Regions from separate parts of the Homo sapiens genome. Here region 2 is linked to region 1. Evidence: fine-mapped expression QTL. Tissue or cell type: nasal epithelium. Region 1 holds a variant in brackets; the other region holds the start of a gene. All regions are shown on one strand. Distances are from middle to middle.

The links. PIP is the estimated chance that this variant, and not a neighbour inherited with it, causes the effect.
Region 2: it holds the start of SIDT1, and the variant in region 1 is fine-mapped to the expression of SIDT1 in nasal epithelium (TOPMed, PIP above 0.99). The same link has a PIP of 0.9 or more in cerebellar hemisphere, cerebellum, cerebral cortex, lung and whole blood.

Annotation. Positions count from the first base shown.
Region 1 is chr3:113,594,930-113,603,036 of GRCh38, reverse strand. SIDT1 (SID1 transmembrane family member 1) reads right to left here. Exons shown (of 25, transcript NM_017699.3): 11 at 1,378-1,449; 12 at 1-32. It overlaps MIR4446 (microRNA 4446), which reads right to left; the gene lies at 8,095-8,107. Among named protein-coding and RNA genes, the nearest start is that of MIR4446, 4.1 kb to the right of the region's middle. The variant G/C (reference allele first, on the strand shown) is at 3,424.
Region 2 is chr3:113,529,050-113,537,156 of GRCh38, reverse strand. SIDT1 (SID1 transmembrane family member 1) reads right to left here and starts at 4,602. Exons shown (of 25, transcript NM_017699.3): 1 at 3,914-4,602. The coding sequence starts at 4,135. RefSeq lists enhancers at 3,711-3,840, 4,311-4,640, 4,781-4,970, 4,991-5,210 and a silencer at 3,991-4,040.

The DNA of each region.
Region 1 (8,107 bases):
CATCTGCCTTCCAGGACTGGAGCTTGACTCATCTGAAACAGAGACAACTCATCTGCCATCAAAAGCCGTGGAGAGCCTACGGAGCCCATTCGTCTCTGCAAAAAGCACAGTGCAGACTCATTCTAGGAAATGCTGTGTTGATCCAAATGAACTTCTCATTCACAAGACCTGTTCTTTCTCTCTATTCCTTCTCAATGGACTTTTATTTTTCCTCTTCTCCTGTTTTTATATTTAACTTGGCTATCTTCAGGACTGAACACATATTAGAATCTAAGGGCATCTGCTCTGTTAACTATTTGGATACAAAAATAATATTATACTTCTATTTCATGTTTCATATGTTAAAATATGAACATAAATATATACAAATACACATGCACATCGCTATGTATAGCATCTATTGCATATATGTGTGAGCCCACACATATCTAACAGCTATACATTTCTCATGGGTAAAGTATTTGTACACAGAAATCACCCACATGCTGTATCTATGATTATATAATGAAAACAACATTCTCAGGAAGAAGAATCCTTCTGTTCCCATGAATGTTTCCCAGAGCAGATGGAGATTTATGCAGCTTGATGGGCACATGAGCTGAGCTTACCTTCCGCTTTATTTCTTCTGTTCAGATGGTTTCTTAAAAATCCTGTTCTAACAGAACTAAAAATAAGTAGTCTGCACTGAGCCCACATGCTTCTCAAAGTTACAGAATGATAGGGCAGGAATACAGGATTCCCAGTCCCTCTACACTGACATTTTAAAGAGCACCATTCATAGGTCCACAAGCAATATGGAAGGGCAGGCAGCTCAATGAGCTTCTACTCTAACAAGACAGGTCTAGGATTCCATTCTTTTCAGCCCACTTAAGGAACACTGGGGTTTGCCATGTGAACGACTGGGTGGCAGTGAGCAGGTTCAATTATGAAGTCAGCCAAAATGAAGGATTGGTAGGCTACAGCCATGTTCACCTGCAGCACTGCCTCAGTCTTCTGATCGCCCCTTACTCCACTGAAACCTGAGAATGAAACAACTGGTCAATTGATGTCAGGCTCCCTGGGACACATCTTTCATGCCCTAAACCCGGGCTGGATATGAAAAAGTCCCTAGGGGGCCTTAGTATTAGATGGCAAACATTGAAGGAATTCTGCCCAAGTGGGGCTAGCAGATCCAAGAAACAGAACAACAGAACTGGAGAAAGTTAGAGCTGGGAGGAAGCTTCCAAATCTCCAAGCAACTCATCTTACAAATAAAAGACAATCTCATAGGATAGCTGCTTTGCCCACATTCCCAGTTATTAGTGGCTGGAATGCCTTTCTATCATATTCTCTGCAGAATTAGGAAACACTTTCATGAACAGACCTGGTAGGACATACCTATTGTCCCATAATTGCTCCCTTCGGGTGTGCTGGCAGCAATGGGATGAGATGCCACCATATTTCCAGAGCCTGTTAAAAAAAGTGAAGAGGCAAACACTTTATGTCCAGTTGCTAAAACAAAACAACACTATTCTAAGTAGCTTGAATCATCAGGGCACATTATTTTAGGTTTGATTTTCTTTTTACACTAATACAGGAGTCACCAAAACTATGACCCATCTGCCAAATCTAGCCTGCCACCTGTTTCTGTATGGCTCTTCAACTAAGATTAGTTTTCAAACCTTTAAATGACTGGGGAAAAAATCCAAAGAAGAATAATGTTTCATGACAGGTAAAAATGATACGAAATTCAAATTTCAGTATTTATGTATAAGTTCTACTGAAACACAGCCATCATTTCCATTGGTGGACAATAAAAATACTCAGTTTTGTAAGCCAGCTTTGTAGGTTTTTAGCATGTTTTAAATTTTTTATGTGTCCATTAATTTCCCCCATAAAGAAAAATAATTAAAGTGTAAACTCAAAACCTTTAGCCAGGTTTTGGACTTAAACTTTAATTATAAGGACTAATGCAATGGCCTTGGAGATCCAATTTCTTTTCTTCTTTGGTGGTTTAGCCAAGAGCTGGCTCAGCTGGACAGCAAGGCTTCTGGCTAACGCAGCATTTTTGGCAGCCTAAGCTGTTCCCAGGGCCCTTAGCACACAGATCTTGGCCTTCAAAATGCAGACTTTGGCCCTCAGAATGCATGCTCCCTGGCACTGTTACTAGGCTTGGAGATCCCCTCATAAATTTCTTCTTATTTAGGGAAATTAGGTGTTCCCTGGCCTTTCTTGGGCTGACCCATAAGTATGTAACATGTCATCAATACCATCTATGCTTTTCAACCAACTTCAAATCAAAGAAACAGGTTACCTTCAGACTGTTAAGTATGAGAGATCAAATCTTTCGAGCACAGTAACAGTGCCATGTGAAGATGTTGTGTGCAATTTGCCTGACTCTTTTTGACTTAGAACAGAATTGGCCATAGTTACAGCATAGAGCTTTGCTGCTGCAGCTGCTACTGCTGCTGCTACCAGTACTACCTCTATTACTACTGACTGATGTTTATTGCAGACTTACTGTGTAGGACAGTCTTTTAAATTCTTTCCAGGAATTTAGTCTTTTAAATTTTCAACAACCCTAGGAGGTTGATAATATTATTATCACCATTTTAAAGATGATAAAAGGGAGATGCTGAGAGATCATGTAATTTGCCTGGTCACTCTGAGAGTGGATGGATAGTGTTTCATTGTATTGGTCTCGGTGAGAACTTATTTTTTTTTTATGAAAAATTATTATTATTTCTTGGGACAGGGTCTCACTTTGTCACCCAGGCTGGAGTGCAGTAGTACGATCTCGGCTCACTGCAACCTCCACCTCCCGGGTTCAAGCGATTCTCCTGCCTCGGCCTCCTGAGTAGCTGGGACTACAGGTGCACATCACCACAACTGGCTAATTTTTGTATTTTTAGTAGAGACAGGGTTTCACCATGTTGGCCAGGCTGGTCTTGAACTCCCCACCTCAAGTGATCAGCTTGCCTTGGCCTCTCAAAGTGCTGGGATTACAGGCGTGAGCCACCATGCTTGGCCTAAAAAATGATTTTTAATTGTATATATTAAGATGTACAACATGATGTTTTGATATTACGTGCACATAGTGAAATGATTGCTATAGCTAAGCAAATTAACATATCCATCACTTTCCATAGTTCCCTCTTTTTTGTTGTTATAAGAGCACCTAAAATCTACTCTCTTCACAAATTTTCAACATAGAATGCAATATTATTAACTATATATATTCTTCCTACTGTATACTAGACTTATTCATCCTACCTGCCTGCAGATTTGTACCTTTTGACTTACAGCTCCTAATTTCCTCCCACTCCCTGTCCCTGATATTCACTGTTCTACTCCTTATTTCTATGTATTTTACTTTTTAAAAGATTTCACATATAAGAGAGACCATGCAGTACTTTGCTTTCTGTGTCTGGTGTATTCCACTTA[G/C]CATAACATCCTCCATGTTTATCCATGGAAGGCATATTGTTGCAAATGGCAGCATATCCTGCTTAAAGGCTGAATAACCTTCTGTTGTATTAGACAAAACTTATCTTTTTAACTGAAAAGACAGGAATTTTCCTTCAAACAAGAACAATTGGTAGTAAATATGTTACTTTCATATAGTGCTCAAGAATACCTTTCTAAAGAGACAAAGAGGTTGAGGCTCATTTGCATCTCCACTGTAATAAACTCACATTTTAAAAAAGCACAGCTTTTGCTTTTTAGATTGGCAGCTGCTGCCTGCCAATGATTACCCACTGGCGTGGGTCATCCTGCATCTTCTTTCTGTTTAGTTTATTGCAGGGAGTCTCATGGAACCCCTGGGTTGCTCTTATTCCTAGATGATGTTGTAGGTCTTTTACATTCCCCTCAGTATCTTTCACATTTTTCTCTTTTCAAGCTCCCTATTTTATTTTATTTATTTATTTCTTGAGACTGGGTCTCACTCTGTTGCCCAGACTGGAGTGCAGTGGCACAATCATGGCGCACTGTAGCCTCAACCACCGGGTTCAGGCGATCCTCCTGCCTCAGCCTCTTGAGTAGCTGTGACCACAGGGTCATGCCACCACACCTGGCTAATTTTTCAAAAATTATTTGTAGAGACAGAATCTCCCTAGGTTGACGAGGCTGGCCTCCAACTCCTTGACTCAAGCAATCCTCCAGTCTTGGCCTCCCAAAGTGCTGGGATTACAGGTGTGAGCCACCATGCCTGGTCTAAGCTCCTTATTTTAAGTCACTAACCTATGTCCTTATTTGAAATGTAATTTTGAAAATTATTAAATGTGCAAATAGTAAATGAAGAATGACACTAAAATCACAAAATGCTGAGAATATTATCATATATTTTACCATATATTTTATCATATAATATTACCATATGTTTTAAAGATGATAAAAGGGAGATGCTGAGAGATCAAGTAATTTGCCCAGTCACTCAGATAGTGGATGGATAGTGATTCCTTGAATTGGTCTCAGTGAAAACTTGTTTCTATAAAAAAAGATTTTTTAATTGTATATATTAAGATGTACAACATGATGTTTTGATGTTACGTGCACATAGTGCATTTTGGTGTCACTGGAAGTCCTCTGATATGGGAAGTTGAAGTTTGTATAAGAAAATACTGGAGGTCAGTTGTAGCAGGAGGTCGAAATTGTTCGTGGGAGCCAATGTTCTCTGTCTGTGTGTGTAATCAAAAGAAAAACAAAAACCAAAAACTAAAATCAAAGCAAGTGAACAAACAAAAACAATCAGTGTTTTGTTAGGTGACAACTTCACTAAAAAGACAAAGCCAGCTGTGTAGGTCTGTTCAGACTTTAAGGAATCACTGATTTCTGTTTTCTGCTCTGGCTCATCACTGAGCATGATCTGGTTTTGATGTTGTTGCTGGCCCTGTTCATTTTGAGGCAGCTGCAACATCATGGGTTCTGTGACAGATAAGAGCACCAAGATTTTCATGTGCAATACCATTGCCAGCATGCAAAAATGTTTTCATTCTGTGGACTTTTATATGCACCAATTAAATATGAGATTGGCCAACATGGGATAACAGTATTCTTTTCATTTTGCTTATGTCTAAAGCCTTTTAAGAATGCAAAAACCAAGGCATTTCCTTCTAAACGTCAAGTATGGTCTGGGAAGGCAAGCCATATCTATATTTAACTGTATAGTACATAGAAAGCATAATTCAACACAAAATATCAGCTTATAAGACAGACCAAGATGTTCTGGCTGGAAATAGCAGACACTTACGATTGTGAATGATCTCATCTTAATGAGGAAACTTGTTTTGATATGTGTTTCTCTGAGCTTGAGCCCCCTGCATCTGTCTACTTCACTGACATAGAACAGGATATGCTTGCACGCTTGCTTTTTATGGTAAATGCCTTATGTGAGGAGAAAAATTTCATTTCATTTTGAGCATGTTTGCGTCTTTCAGGGACTTCATATTTATAGTTGCCTTGTCCCATTATGTCTCTGAAGACTCAGCAGGTTGGAAGCTGAAGAGGGAGCCAGAAATGATGGGAACTAGCTAGCATGATTTTTTTTTTTTTTTTTTTTTTTTTGAGATGGAGTCTCGCTCTGTCGCCAGGCTGGAGTGCAGTGGCATGATCTCGGCTCATTGCAACCTCTGCCTCCCGGGTTCAAGTGATTCCCCTGCCTCAGCCTCCTGAGTAGCTGGGACTACAGGTACATGCCACCATGTGCGGCTAATATTTTGTATTTTAGTGGAGACAGGGTTTCACAATGTTGGCCAGGATGGTCTCAATCTGCTGACTGTAGGCAATCCACCCGCCTCGGCCTCCCAAAGTGTTGGGATTACAGGTGTGAGCCATCGTGCCCAGCCAAAATTTTATTTTTATGCCAATTGCCTACCTATCCCAACTTAGTGTCACGTTTTGTTTCAATAGTTGAAGAAAAAATGAAGAAAACCATCATCTTTGCAGATGGATGTAAAAGTAAAATTCCTCTAGAAGAAAAAGCTGGACAAGAAAACTAGAAAAAGAAGAGTAGAGATCTAGGACTAAAATTTGAGACCCTTTGTCACTGAATGGCCTGCGTTCCTTGAGTCCTCCAAATTCAACACTCTCCTTGTCTTATCTCCACCAGATCTTGCTCTTGGCTAAGAGGCTGGTTCAGTAATGGCTGTATCCAGGGAAGGATTGGGTTGGCCATTTGGTTCTTAAATCTACAACCGATTAGGCCTGCCAAGCTCTTGCATTTGAGAAAGTAACCTCCTCTTCTGTTGTACCCCAGTTCCTGGTGGCAACTCAAGGGGTCCCAGAGGCCTGTTGGGGAGGCTTCATTATTTTTCTCAGCTGGTAACTGAATTTCTGTAGAGGCTCTTTAACAATGATGTGAAATGTGGGGTTTCTCTCTGATAAAGCCAGTGGAGGAAATGGTTTTAGAGCACAGAGCCTTTCTTAGTACCTCTCAGATTCTCACAGATGCCCTGTCTTTGGTATTAAGGATAATTAGACAATACAGGGTCCAGTCATTCATAGTACAGTAAAAAAGTCCCTTCAAGTCCCCTGGAGCAGCTCTTTGCCAACAGTATTTCCATCTCACCCAGGCTCCAGGGTCTAATCTTCTTCTTCATCCCATGAAGTATGAAATACATTTTTTTGCTTTTTATTATAGTTGGAGCTAACATGGAGATTTTCACATACAGCTTAATTAAATCACTTCAGGCATATCAAAGAAAAACAAATGCAGAGTAGCGCACAGATTTTCTGAGTGCATCCTTCCTAACTCCAACAGAGCTGCCACCAATTTGGCAACCTGTAGGGACCTGATTCCATTTCTTCCACTTCAGTCACGTCTAAGGTGAAAGCCTTAGGCTAAGTTCCACAGATATCTAGCTCCACAATGATGTGGGCAGAGACCGTATTAAGTCTAGTGGGATCCTCTTCCCCTTTAAGAAGCTGCTTCTAGCATTTTCTCTGGATATAAGCACCCAAGGCATTTCCTGTAACTCTGAGCTCCATCGAACTTCCTGTGCCCCATGGTCATGCTGATCCTGGCCTTGGGAGAGAAAGACATTTCTGTATCCTTGTTTCTTCCCTGAATGTCTGTCACTAGCTTCCAGATATGGTCCTTACTTGCCTCTGTCTCTTGCTCCTGGTTGATTTCTCTATGCTCTGTTTGAGATGCCTAAAAAAGTCACTGGTTCTTCCCTTGGGCAGTGCTTGTCTTCTGCTCTTGGTTTAAGCATCTAGGTCTTGACTCACCAGTGGTCATGACATTGGGGGTGATGCCATCATTCCCTGTGGCCTCTCTACCTTACAAAGGTTCCTTATTTTCTTCCTATTTCAAGACTTTTGTGTGGTGAATATTCCTATTCCCTACTTCTTACCTAAGCTGGTGTGTTATTTAGGTGTCTTCATGTGTTTAGGTCCATGGTTCTCAAACAGGGGGATGTGGGGAAAGAGTTTTGCCCCCAAAAAGACATTTGGCAATGTCTGGAGGCTTTTTTTTTTTTTGAGACACGGTCTTGCTCTGTCACCTAAGTTGGAGTGCAGTGGTGCGATCTCAGCTCACTGCAGCCCCAACATCCTGGGCTCAAGCGATCCTCCCATAGCAGCCTCCGAAGTAGCTGGAGCACAGGTGCACACCACCACGCCCACCTAATTTTGTTTATTTTTTGTTTTTATGAAGACGAAGTCTTACTATGTTGCCTAGGCTGGTCTCGAACTCCTAGGCCCAAACAATCCTCCAACCTCGGCCTCCCCAAATGCTGGGATTACAGGCATGAGCAACTGCACCAAGCCTGGAGGCATTTTTAGTTGTCCCAAGGAGGGGCAACTCCTAGAATCTAGTGCACGGAAGTGAAGGATGCTATTAAACATCCTATAAGATACAGAATAGCCCCCAACAACAAAGAATTATCTGGCCTATGATGTCAATAATATTGAGTTTGAGAAACTCTGGTCTTAGAGAAGAGGACCTAATCTTAATTCTGAAAGTAGGTTTATCTGATGTGTAGGTAAATCTGTTCTTTGCAGTGACTGGTTTAACAATAAGTGTATGATTCACTCTAGGCCAATGAAACACAAGAAGTTGCTGAGGGCTTCTTAAAAGGTCCTTCCCTCTGGTGCTGCCAGGTGAAGGTGTGAGCCTTGACCCATGTCA
Region 2 (8,107 bases), 66 kb after region 1:
TTCTTACAGGAAAACCTCAGAGAAGACAGCCTGTTGCCCAGTGGTTAGATTTTATTTAAGGGTTTCTTATCACCATCTAGCTCAAATAGAAACATCTGATTGTTGCTGCCAACTGTCTCTACAAGAGTATTCTCATTTCCCAGTAAACCTGCATTTGTGCCTTCTGTCCCAGTCAAACATATCCCTGGCAACTTTCCCAACAAGTTAGTTTCCTTCTAGCCTGGCTGAGCCCTGTGGTTATAGAACACCCTGTTTGCACAGTATAGCCCTCCTCCTCTTAAAGAGAGTCTCCAGACACTTCCTTCCAGAGAAATGAAATGAATCATGATCTTGCCTAACTTGCACCTCCAATTATTATTTTCATCATTCTTATTTGAAGCAGTCATTCCATTCTCTCAGTGATTTTTTTGAAGGCAACTTCATATTTACATTACCCTATGCCTGGAAGGCATATGAGACTTTTCCTGGTGCTGAGTGCAGCTAACTAGTATGACACAAGCTTGGCAAAATAGTTCTCTGGGACAGTTTGGTATGGGAGATGCAGTGGCTGACAGGAAAGATTAGGAGCAATGGCTCCCACAACAGCTTCCTGTCTTTAAGCCTAAACTTAGAATAGACTTTCTCCTCCAAGGCACAGGAAAAATAATGTCAAGCAACAATGGCTTGAAGAAAGAGGAAAACAAAGATTAAAGCTCAAAAACTAGCCATTTTTTTCCCTAAACCAAATTCTTTGTTGCACTGAAGAGGGGAGGTGGGCAATGACCCTGCAGGCTAGAAAGACTTACCTTATCAAGACTTTGTTCAGGTTAAAGGGAAACCAGTCATGTCCAAGCTTCTGCTCTAAAGATCGTAGGTCTGGGGTCATACATCTCTATTTAACAGAGCCTCTTAGTGAGTGTAGGATAAGCAATGATGGCAAAAATTGCACAACATGGGAGAGTAACAAAAATTTAGTGGGTGGGGGTCAGCATTTGAGGAGGTATGAGGGGATGGCCAAGAAGATAGTGACAAACCAGCGCCTGAAAGAGAGCGTCGCTATCTTGAAATCCCCCTGGTGGTAAATTGTCGGAACAGTATGGCCTAGGTTTCTGATTTAATCTATCACCTATCTTGTGCTGTGATGTCATTCCTCTATGTTATTCCAAACCTTCAGTAAAATTCTGCTACATCCAACAGCCTTGTGTACCTGCAAGAAGGGGCTGCTGATATCTTATGCAGGATAAGAAGAACTAAGAAGAGAGTAGGAACCGAAGGTAATGGTTTGGACAGACAGATCAAGAAAATGTCTTCTCTGGAGAAAGCAACAGGAATACTGGCTGGTAGGACAGGAGGTTAATTTCCCACAATAAGTGGCTTTTGAGGGCTCCACTACAGCATTTGCATATTAAAGATTGGTCCCAGAAGGCTGTAAGATTTGAGGACATTTGGCTTATATTGAGAATACTGGCACTAAAATAATTGAAATTCTTGTTATCTCCTGTTCCCATGGTTCCCAACTTTGTATTTCTCAGACTAGTAATATTTTAACAAAAATTCTAGGGACTGCTTGGGTCATCAACCTTTTACTGTGTCATTCAAAAATATTTTCAAAACTGTTTCATAAAATAAAGGACATGTTAACACACACAGACAAAATAGGGCATAATAGAACAATTTTTAAAATGTGTTTTTATAAAAACCAAATTTGTTTTATGAAAGAAATTTGTTTTTATGTTTTTATCTGAAATGATCTCACATTTTCCAAACTATTGAATTGAAAACAGTATACATTTCATTTTATTTAGCCTTAGCTAATAACCCTTTATTCACTTATTTGTTCATTTTTGGAAAACACTAAATGTTTTTTATAAGCCTCTCTTTTCTTTAAAAAAAAAAACATTTTGAAAAAACAGGGTATCACTCTGTCCCCAGTGGGAGTACAGTGGCAAGAGCTCAGCTCACTGCAGCCTCAAATTCCTGGGCTCAAGTGATCCTCCTGCCTCCGCCTCCTAAGTAGCTGGGACTACAGGCGCATGTGCCATCACACCCAGCTAATTTTTTAATTTTTTGTAGAGAGAGGGTCTCATTATGTTTTCCAGGCTGGTCTTGAACTCCTGGTCTCAAGCAATCCTCCCACTTTGTCCTCCAGAGTGCTGGGATTACAGGTGTGAGCCATCATGCCTGGCTTATAAACCTCTTATGTGCCATTCACTGTGCTAGGTACTGGAGGGCAGAGATGAACATGACTTTGCCCCTGCCCTCAATATCTCAAGGTTTACTAGGGAAGTCAACCAGGTGATCTCAAGTGCAAAACTCACACAGTACAAGGGGAAAATGTAAAGGCAACAATTCATAAGTAGATGCTCTATCTCTATGCAGAACTGCAAGAAATACCAAAGCCTGATGTCAGGATTTACTTAGCACATGTAATTTGAGTTTTCTTACCAATGATTTAGGGGGAAGCTGAGACTTACTCCAGAGATCATGGAGTTTTCAGACTTTTTTCTGCTCCCAGCCAATCACAGGACTAGGAACACACCTCACGTGCAACATGTCAACCAGTCGATGAGTTCTCCCACGCTAGATAGAAAGAGGCTGGGTATATGGCGTTTGGGAAACAAAAACTGCAGCCTCTCCCTTGTCTACCATGAAATGGCTCTGCATACAGCCACTCTGCTCACTACAGAACATATAACCTGAAGGTTACTGGAGGACAGAGCAGGGTGAGGGCTGTGCTGCCATGGTAACAGTGCCATAGGATTTGGTGCCACACTGGAGATGGGGCACTCAGGGCACTTTCTGGCTACACACAGCTGGAAGATGTCTAGGAGCAGTGTTAGGCACATTGGTCCCCCCTGCTCAATACAAACCACCCTCACTTTGGGAAGTGATGAGGTTTTCTAGTTCCGATCTGGAGTGAGAATCAGACGGAGGCATATCATGGTATCCCAATCATCTAGTTCTGGAATTTCCCTAGAGGGTAGGGGATGCTGGTATAGTAAGGGATACATAAACACATTTATATGGGAAGAAGATCCAGAGGTTGGTACACTGGGGAGTCTCTGTCTCTGTCTCTGTCTCTCTTTCTCTCTTTCTCTCTCTGTCTCCCTCTCTCTCCCCGCCCAGTGCTCCAGAGGTACCACACTAGAGGAAAGAAATGAACTATATGCATCTTCTTACGTTATATAATCGGAGTATATATGTCAAAGGGATAGTCACTGGAACATTTTTCCCTCCTTATCTTCCCTCAACTTTTGTCAAAAATAGGTCTAGAACTTTCACACAATTATCCATCCTTATTTAAAATCAAAACCTGGATTGATCAGCTGATGGCTGCAGTTCTCACGTCTTTGCCCAGGTCTTCTGGCGTCTCTGAAGCACAACGTGTGACAATGGCACAAAAACGCAGGAAGTGACTGTTGAATGCACAGAGGTTCTGCAGCTTCCGTCCATTTTCACACAATTTCCATTTTAGATTCTGAGCAGTTCTCCCTCCCCATGCGCTATGAAATAGAAGGGTCTGGCTGAATCAGCCACTTGAAATTAGGTTTCTTCCCTGCAGGGGATTAGGAACCGAGGTGCGGTTCTTCTTCGCACTCCACACCACACCCCGCAACCCTAGAAATCAGGACTTTCCTGGAGAAAGACCCAGCAGGGACCCAGGACCCGCAGACGGTGCGGGGAACTGGTGCCTCTGCAAAGCCCAGCAATGCCCTTGACCAGGCCAGGAGAGGCGCGAGGCGAAGCAGAGTTGTCCCCGAGGCGTGTTGAGGCAGCTAGGGCAGGGCAGCGATTGCTTCGGAGGAGAAAGGGAAAGAAAGTCCCCTGGTCCCCGAAGTCTCCCAAGGTCAATTCCCAGGGGACTCCAAAGCAGCGACGGGGCTCTGAGATCTGGCAAGTTCTAGGAGTCGAGCGAGGGGAGCGAGTGTCTTACCTGGTCGGGCTGGCTGGTGTAGTTGAAAGAGTAGATGTTCTCGGTGCTGAGGTTCACCACCCCGCTGTAGACATGATCGAAATCGGCGCCCCTGGCAGCGTCGAAGGGGTCGCGGCGCGGTGCCGGGGGCTGCCTGGGGGATTTCGCCGGGTGCCCGGGCGACGCCGCCAGCAGGAGCCAGGGCAGCGCGCAGAGCAGCGCGAGCCGCAGGCAGCCGCGCATGGTGGGCACCGCGCCCGGGCTCGAAAGCGGAGCCACCCTGGGGAGGGGGCGAGCGCAGAGAGGGTCCTTCCAAAGCCCGGTGCAGGGCCAGGCGTCCGCTTCAGAGCCGAGCGGGTGATGCCTGGCGAACCCAGCCGGCCAGGGCTGGCAGCGTGCTGACGAAGGGCCGATCAAATACTGATGCTGCCGCCTGGGGTCTCCACTGGAGGTCACGGGTGGAGAGTAGGGCGGACTGGAGAAGTGGAGATGTGGGGCTGCTGATTTTCCTCCGGCTTCTAAGTCCCCCGTTTCTCATCGCCGAGAATCCCCCCACTTACCCAGCCAGAATTTAGACCGATCTCTTCTCCCTCAACCTCAATAACAGCAATAATAAAAAGGCATTGGAGTCATTAAAAAGAAATACCCGCTAGTCTCGAAAAGTCAACCTGACGCCACATCGAGGAGGAAATTCGGTCTGTTTCAAATACGTGTGCACCCTGGCTGCAGGAGAAGAAATAGAAAGCAAAAGAGCCCGTCCCCCAAGAGGGTGCGCGAGTTCGCTTTCCCAGGCTGCTACCTGCAGAGAACTCTTGCCTGTCTGAACGATAATTACTCTCTATTCTCCCCTCTCTAATAGAACCTCTCCTCAGACACCTGTTTTATTTCTTTATTACCTCCTACTCTCCATGGAGAGTCTCACGTCATCACGTTCTCTCCCTCACCATATGTGTATGTATGTAAATATGTACAGTTAAAAAAAAAAAGATATGGTAAAGAGAACAATTTCCAGCACTGCCTGAAGTCTGGTCCCGGAAGTTGTCAAAAAACGACTCAGACTAACTAGATTTATGCAGAAGGCATTTCTTTCCACCCCAGCCTCTTACCTACTTTACCATTGCAATGACTTCTTCCAGATTCTGAGAGAAACCCCAGGATTGTTTTTTTAAAGGCAGAAACCACAGCCTATCGTAAAAAGGAAATACTTTTCTGATAAAAATTAGGGGATTAGATTTAAAGAGTTAAAGAGGCAGGTAAGGAGCAGGGTGAGAATGGGGCCATCAGAAGACCTTGCAGAACATTGAACAATCACAATTTACGTGTGGAAGAGAACTCACTGTTTTATTTCAGCTTCATTACTGTATACTATAAAAGAATGTAATTGTGTTCAACCTGAAGGACCATTTAAAAAGAAGTCATTAAGAAGGAAAAGATCTTTTTCAAAAATTTAAGATTACAGATTAAAATCCTAGTCCTTGCCATCTTTAAAGAGATAGATTTGTTTTTGTTTTTACCTTGTCTAATTCCTTTAATTTCTTAAAACATCAAGAATGAATGCAATACATTTGTTGTAAAGTTTTCTGTGAAATCAGAAAACAATGCTGATGGAAGATTAAGTTAGTAGACTCCTTATTAGGACAATTTTCAGTTTTAAAGTTTTGAATGTTCTTGGCCAGGTGCAGTGGCTCATGCCTGTAATCCCAGCACTTTGGGAGGCTGAAGTGGGAGGTGGGCTAGCTTGAGGCCATGTGTTCATGACAAGTCTGGGCAACATGATGAAACCCCATCTCTACAAAAAATACAAAAATAGCTGGGCGTGGTGGTGCATGCCTGTCGTCCTAGCTACTTGGGAGTTGAGTTGGGAGGACTGCTTGAGTCCGGGAGGTCGAGGCTGCAATGAGCCGTGAACACCCCACTGCACCCCAGCTTGGATGACAGAGCAGGACCCTATCTCAAAAGGAAGAAAGGAAGGAAGGAAGAAGGAAGGAAGAAAGGAAGGAAGGAAGGAAGGAAGGAAAGAAAGAAATTTCTTGAAAATATATGGGTATATGGGCAAAAATACTAATTCAAAGGAGAGTCTGGGGGTAAAACTTCAAATAGAACTCACTGTTTTTGAGGAGCATAACGAAATAATTTCATCCAGAATTTGAATGACTTTAAACTGTTGTATTCAAAATATCTGTGCCTCTTTTCAAAGTTCAACAACATTTCATAAACTTGAAATCTACGAAGGTCCTGGAGGTTAGCTGGTGTGACCAGTTAAAGGAGTCTCTAGGATTATGGAGTTCTATTATGGCGTTCTTTTTAAACACTATAAGAGATGAGGAACTGGTTCTTTCACAAGTCAACACCTTCTTTTGGGGGCAAGTGTCTCATTATTAGAAAGACATTTCATATTCTTAGTTGAAATCTGCCTGTCTTCTACTCACTTGTACTAGTTCTGCCCTCTGGAGTCATAGGAATAAACCTAATACTTCTTCCACATGACAGACCTGTGGGTATTTAAATGGTGCTATGACCCTTCCTTCAAGATTTTATCTCAACTTTACGCAACTAAATTGGAAGCAAATGGAACAGATCCTTCATCATAGCATGAAACCCAAAATATTTATTTTAAAGCCATTTGTATGGATTATCTATACCTAACAATTTGAGTTATATATTACAAGTCACTCTGTAATATTATCTAATCCTTATTCTAGCCAAAAGTCATTCAGTGACCTCAAGTAATTAACCTCTCAGGATCACAAGGTTGTTGTAAGGATAAAAGGGAGAATGATGTATTTGAAAGTACATTAAAAAGTTTAAAGTGTTGAATGAACAAATACTGTTATGGTGTGACTGCTAGTTCAATAGCTAAAAAATAAAATGTGGTCCATTAGGTAGGTGGTTTTTTTCTTTATTTTTAAAAGGAATTTTATTTTAAATTTTTGTGGGTACTTAGTAGGTGTATATATGTATGGAGTATATGAGATATTTTGATACAGGCATGCAATGCATAATAATCACATCATGGAAAACGAGATATCCATCACCTCAAGCATTTATCCATAATGTTACAAACAACCCAATTATACTCTTTTAGTGATTTTTAAATTTACAATTAAATTATTATTGACTATAGCCTGTTGTGCAATCAAATACTACACCTTATTCATTCCATTTTTTGGTATCCATTATCCATCCCCACCTTCCTCCCCCAGCTCTCCCACTACCCTTCCCAGCCTCTGGTAACCATCCTTCTACTCTCTTTCTCCATGAGTTCAATTGTTTTGATTTTAAAGGCAGTTTTTTTTTTTTAATATCTACAATGTCAGGATTCTACTGTGAGAGACTAAATATGCAAGTGGGCAATGGCCAGACCATAAATAGCAATACAACTAACTCTGACCCACAGTTTCTGCAGCAATCAGCTCAGGAAACAAAAACACTTTAGCAGCAACCAGTCCAAGAAATCAAACTACAACTGCTGCAGCAAATGGCCCAAAAGAATTAGGTCTTGCTCAATGAGTCAATTTCCCCAATTTTTGCCCCTGCTTCCAACTTAGGATCAATCAGAGAAAGTTAAATATGCTTCCCAAACCACAAAATGCCCTGCTCCTACTTAGCCTGCCTCCAGCTTCCAACAGCAAGATCCAGTCAGAGCATACCTGAAACCTTCCCCTTTTATAACTATGAAGTTTTCTCACTCCCCTTCCTGCCTTTGAGTCTCTACTAAGCAGAAGTGATGGTGGTCAACTCCCTTGCTAGAGCAAGCTCTGAATAATTAGCCTCTGTTTGTTTTCATTTGTGTGAGCTTCACTTGTTTCTGTAGTTTTCTTGAAGTTTCCACAGAGATACTGTCTGCACTGCATGTCACCATGGATCCCAGTTCTCTGCCAGGTGCAGTACCCACCAAGGCTTCTTGTGCCTCACTGCACACAGTTGAGTCTGCATTGACACATTGGGTCAGCACTGGTTCTGAACTCTGCTCTTTGATTTTGAGTTCTTTGGCTATTTAGTCTCACTTTGGTACCTAGGATTTGTTATCACTTCCCATTTGATTGGCATCTTTGGTGGAGTCAGGCTATTCCTTTTCATCTCTGTTTTCTCTCTTTTCTGCTTCTGTTTTGCATTGTGCAATCTGGAAGTGTTGTCATAGAGTAGAACACAGGCATAGGCCCTATAAGCCTTTAATTTGAGCTGTCCTCCCAGACCAATGTAGTTTTCATTTGA